2 separate regions of the Homo sapiens genome follow, and region 2 is linked to region 1. Evidence: fine-mapped expression QTL. A gene starts in region 1. The other region holds a variant in brackets. All regions are shown on one strand. Distances are from middle to middle.

What was found.
Region 2: its variant is fine-mapped to the expression of MAP3K21 in prefrontal cortex (BrainSeq, PIP 0.95).

What each region holds. Positions count from the first base shown.
Region 1 is chr1:233,326,376-233,329,288 of GRCh38, reverse strand. It overlaps MAP3K21 (mitogen-activated protein kinase kinase kinase 21), which reads right to left and starts at 1,565. Exons shown (of 10, transcript NM_032435.3): 1 at 456-1,565. The coding sequence starts at 1,260. It also overlaps a transcript of PCNX2 not described here. RefSeq lists silencers at 922-1,121, 1,311-1,462, 1,262-1,561, 1,752-2,051.
Region 2 is chr1:233,384,447-233,387,359 of GRCh38, reverse strand. It overlaps MAP3K21 (mitogen-activated protein kinase kinase kinase 21), which reads right to left. Exons shown (of 10, transcript NM_032435.3): 10 at 2,212-2,913. Among named protein-coding and RNA genes, the nearest start is that of MAP3K21, 58 kb to the right of the region's middle. The variant GT/T (reference allele first, on the strand shown) is at 1,318.

The DNA of each region.
Region 1 (2,913 bases):
CAATACAGCACTTGTAAAGTTGACGTCCCCGAGTGCATTCGGGGACTTTGATGAAGGCCACCGGGTGAAGACGGTCATGGGTTCCATATAATCTGCAGAAGGCCTCGGTTTGCAAAGTCCTACCCAGATGAATCACCTCTGGTATTGAAAGGCCAGACTGCCCCCTGAGGTTTCTAGGAGATCCAGGTATTTTACAAATGTTTCCTCTACAAGCAAGTCTGGTCTGAACTTTTTTAAAAAGCACCCAAAGGCAAGTCAAGGTTAAGCGTGTCACCAGCCCCAAAGCAAGTAACCAAGGACTAGCTGGACTTCCGAGCCCTGAAGGCCTGGGCATGAGTTGCTGCTGGCGCCCTAAGGCTGACTCCCACCTCTTTCCATCTGGTACTATGTCCTGTGGAGCCCGCCTGGGCTGGCACGGAGGTAGTCTTCCCCCACCTCCCTCTGGCCCCACTTACTGTTGCTGGACTTGAGGTCCCGGTGCAGGATGGGCACGAAGGCCTCCTCATGCAGGTAGAGCATGCCCCGCGCTATCTGCACGGCCCAGTTGACCAGCACGTGCGGAGGGATGCGGCGCGCGCGGCGGGGGCCGGGCGCGCGCGGGTCCGGGGCGGCGTTGGCAGCGGCCAGCGCTCGGTTGAGCGCTCCGCCGCGGGCGAACTCCAGCACCAGGCAGAGGTGCGGCTGCTGCAGGCACACGCCGCGCAGCTCGATGATGTTGGGGTGCCGCAGCATGGCGAAGAGCCGAGCCTCGCGCCGCACGCTCTCGGCAGCCGCCGCCGCGTCCTGCTCCGGGTCCTGGCGCGCCGCCTTCACGGCCACCTCCTGGCCCTGCCAGGTGGCGCGGTACACCTGCCCGAAGCCCCCAGCGCCGATGAGCTCCTTCAGCTCCAGCCGCTCGAAGGCGACGTGTACCGGGGAGCTGGGCCGCGAGGGCGGCGGCGCGGGGCTGGCGGCCGGGCGGCAGGGAGCCACGTAGTTGGCGGGGAAGATGCCGAGGCGCCGCTGCACCTGGCCTGCCCACCAGCCCTCGTCGCCCGACACGGCGGCGTCCTGCGACAGCACCTCCACCAGCTGGCCGCGCCGCAGGCTCAGCTCGTCCTCGCCGCGAGCCTCGTAGTCATAGAGCGCGGCCCACAGCCCCGCGCCCGCCGAGGCCGAGCCGCCCGAGGAGGTGGACGACGAGGACGCTGAGCCGCCGGGGGCTCCCCCGGCCGAGGACACCGGGGTGTCGGTCGCTCCCGCGGCGCCCCGCAAAGCCATGGGGGCAGCTGCGCGGGGAAGGCGGAGCGGGAAGCTGGGCTCAGCCTCCCGGGCGGCCGCGGGCGCGCATCGTCCGGCGGTGTGGCCGTCGGCGCCGGGGGAAGGCGAGGGGGTAGGAATCGCGATCGGTGACGGCAGAGATCACGGGCTAGCTGCCCAAAGGGTCCAGCCTCGGCCCGCGTTCCTGGCCAGCCGCCTCTGCTGCCGCAGCGGTCCCCGAAGCCGCGGGCGACGTCCCACCATGGTCGTGCCCAGGCCCTGCGGCCGGCCCGCCCGCCGCGCGCTCCTTAGCCAGAGCCTGGGACGCCCCACCCCACCCTAGCCGCGCCAGGGCCGCCCCGCCCCCTCCGGCTCCATTCCGCACCGCCCCCCCACCCCCCCGGGCCCGCCCCTAGGCCAGTCCCCAGGGCCTTCCCGCCCCTCCCCCAGCCGCCCCGCCCTCTCCAGGTTCATTCCGCCCTCCTTGACCCGTCCCGGGCGCCCAGTCTGCGCCCGCCCTATGGGACCGCCTTCCTAGGTTCGCCCCACCCTTCCCCACCAACTGCACCATCCCGCCCCGCCCTCGCCAGGTTCACTTCCCTTTTCTGTGCCAGTCCCCAGAGCCTCGTCCCGCCCCTGGCGCCCGGGCCCGTCCCCCACCACCTTGGGCCGGGCCCGCCCCCTGGGCCCGCCTGGCTGGTCCCACCCCGCCCCCGCCGCAGGTGCTCCGGAGCAATGGTGAGCCGCGCCCACATGGTCTGGGAGGCGGGATCGGCCGTCATCCGCTATAAATTTTCGGGAGAGTTTAAATTAAGCCAAAGGTAAGACTGAGGGAGGGGACGCTTCTCCAAGAAGCGGTGGGAGAGGGTTGAGAAGATGTGGGGCTTTAGGGTGTGGCGGGGAGAGAGAGAGTTGCAGTTCAGGGAGAGTGACAGAATCTCAGAACGGGCTACAGAAGAAATTGTAGCGCGGTGCCAGACCTGGGCCAGTGCGAGTGGCAAGTCACCATGCTAAGTGCGTTTGAGCCACCGTGCATCTCAGAACTGACTAGGTTACAGATCGCAGCGCAGAGTGACCCGTGGTCGGTATAGTCCCAGAAGCTCCATGATGGTAAATCCTTTGCTTATTTTTACTGTCTACTCAGATGGAAAATGCCCCAGTCTCCCTGGAAACCCACAGGTTTGGGTTTAGGAAGCATTGGCAATGGCTGGGTGCCAGACGTTGGTAGGTTACTGTGGCAGGTGATGAGGCTAAAAAGATAGAAGAGCTTAGTTATTAAAATTCTAAAATATTAGATTATCCTGTAGTAGGCCAGAATTTCCTAACGTGTGGATCCTGTACTTCCAATAACAGAAGGGACAATTTTAGATATTATGAGGATAGGACATACAGTAACATTCTGAGTTACATAAAGATAAATTTATTGTCTTTTCAGTTTTCTTTGTCTCTCAGATCAAACTATTTATTGGCTGTGTGACCTTGAGCAAGTTTCTTTATTTCTCTATGACTCAGTTTTCTCATCTATAAAATGGGAATATAATAAATAGTACCTACTTTATAGGGTTTTTAGGAAGACTAAATGAGTTAATAGTTTTACAGTGGGTCTTCTGCATCCACAGAATCAACCAACAGCTGGTCAAAAATGTTTTTTAAAAACCCAAAAAATAACAATAC
Region 2 (2,913 bases), 58 kb before region 1:
CACAAATACTTCATCTTTCACTATGTTTCAGCATGTTGATCTTTGCAGAAGTAAAGAATAGAGACAGCTTAAGCCCAATTAAATTATTTTATGTGTATATTGCAGTTCTTACATAATTTCACCATATTTATTGTCTTAGTCCATCTGGGCTGTTATAACAAAATAACATAAAGTAGGTGGCTTCTAAACAACACACATTTGTTGCTCACAGTTCTGGAGGCTGGGAAGTCCAAGATGATGGTGCTGGCAGACTCTGTGTCTGCTGTGGGCCTGTTTCCTAGTGTATATATAGCAGTTTCTCACTGTGTCCTCACATGGTGTAAAGGGATAACAGCTTCCTTCAGGCCTCTTTTAAAACAGCATTAACCCCATTCATGAGAATTCATGATCTAATTACCTCCCACCTCTTAATTCCAAAACTTTGATGGTTACGATTTCAACATAGGAATTTTGAGGGACATATTCAGACCATGGCATTTATGAACCTATTGAACAGAATACCTCATTTCTCTGAGTTGATCTATCAGATATGCATATTTTACTCCTTTCTATTGCATTTTCCATTGTATTAAGTGTTATTAGCTAATAGTGTTTTATTTTTAAATAAGTACTGTGAAAGTTAATAATACAAATTGGGCAATTCTTGTCATACATACTCAGTTAAATCAGAACTGAGGGGCCAGAGAGGAAAACATACGTGGGGGACATAGCACCTACTCCACGAATGTATTTTCTCCAAGCCCAGCTGCTGAAATGGCCTGCTGTCACCCCAGGGCCAGTTTTACCTGGTAGCTGCTGAAGCAACAATTTGTGACTCTAAGACTTGTTTTAATTCCTGCCATGACTCACCAACCAGAGCTTGCCAGAGTCCAAAAGCTTCTCTAGTGCCAATGAGCTTTCTTTCAAAACAATATGTAACAATTCTTTAATAAAACTCCTGTCTCTTTGTTCTTTGGACATACTGAAGATCACCTGGTCTCTGTGTATGTCCTGAATTGCAATTCTTGCTTCCTAAATAAAATGTTTCAAATTTCAATATTTATCTCTATATCTTATTTAACTTCAATGGTACTCATACATTTTTAGACTTTTGACTTTTTGATGAGAGAGAAACTACCTTAGCTTTAGATAACATTTACAAAGCTCATTTGCAAGATGTCCTCATCTTCTACACCATGCTTACAACTATTAACCACAGGTGTGAACAGGTAGATGGTGATCACTTGACTCAGACTGGGTCTTTGGAAATTTACCAAACCTTTCTGTGTCTGTTTCATATCTAATGCGATAGGAGTAGTATTACTTATCTCACAGTTT[GT/T]TTTTTTTTTTTTTTTTTTTTGAGATTAAGTCTCACTCTGTCACCAGGCTGGAGTGCAATGGTGCGATCCCGGCTGACTGCAACCTCTGCCTCCCAGATTCAAGCAATTCTTCTGCCTCAGCCTCCTGAGTAACTTGGATTACAGGCGGGCACCATCATGCCAGACTAATTTTTTGTATTTTTAGTAAAGAAGGGGTTTCACCATGTTGGCCAGGATGGTCTCGATCTCTTGACCTCTTGATCCGCCCACCTCAGGTTCCCAAAGTGCTGGGATTACAGGCGTGAGCCACCATGCCTGGCTTTCTCTCACAATTTTTATTAAAGAGAATTACAGGAGTTGTCTTCTATAGGCACCTAGGAGGGTTCCCCATACTTAACAGATATTCAATGCACATTACGTTTTGCTCCCTCCCATGTGGTGGGGTAATGCTATGATCTCCATGAAGTCCTGCGATCTGCTTTCCTCATTCACTCAAGCTTTTATCACTTAGTAAGAATTTCTACATGTTAAGTGGTGTTTGAAATTCCTCTGATTTAAACATAAAATTAAACAATAAAATCAACATGTCTCCTTAATCACTGAGATTTTTTTCTCATACTCATTTCACTCTGCAAAAGTGTGTCTTCTGAAAAGCTGGACTTGCAAAACGCTCACCATGAAATATAACTTTTCAATGCATATGTAAACCAAAAAAATTTGAAATAAAACATTTCATTCTACCTTTTTTGATGTATTTAATTGAATGACTCATTTAGTGATTTTCAGTTTAATATATTTAGCAGGTTAATACCTGGCTTATTAAACAATAATCTTTATTAACACAATTTTTCTTATTGAATACAAAATAAACCATTGCAAACTATAGTCACAATAATCAAGAGAGGATCAAAGCTACTGAGCAAATAGACCAGCTATAAAAGTTTATTAAAAAAATAGACAACATATGTAAACATATTTTTCAGTCACAAGGCTTCATAATACAGCACATTAGGCCCAGGCCTTAAATCTCTGCAGTGAGAGTACCTTAATTTTTTACTAACAGTAATTGACTTATCTTTCAGTGAACATTAAGCCTACACAAAAATAAATAACCAGATTCTGCTAAGTTTACTAACACAGAAAATTGCAAATGTACAATAGATTGCAGCAAAAGTTAACTATCTGCAGTAACATGTGAGATTGAATTGTTATATTACAATTATTTTAATACAGCTTCATTTTGAAATTCATCATAATGTAGAGTTGACTAAAATAAAGCTAAAGGGGAATAATAACAGAGATAAACAAACACCCAGATCACATACACTCCCCAACACACACATGCAAACACACATTTACTAATATGCATGCACACACACACACGCCAACATACATGCACACACATACAGGGATGTTTTGGTAGAAGTAAAACTGAGGACATAGTTTCCATCCTTTTTCTTTCATGTATTGATGATTTTAGGTATATATTTCTCTACCCTTAAGCTGGAAGCTACGTGTTCCAAAAGGACTGAACACAAAGCAATCATAGTTTCAAATGTGATAACATTTTGGGAAAACCAAATCTCTGTTACATAATTCAATAACCACACAAAGT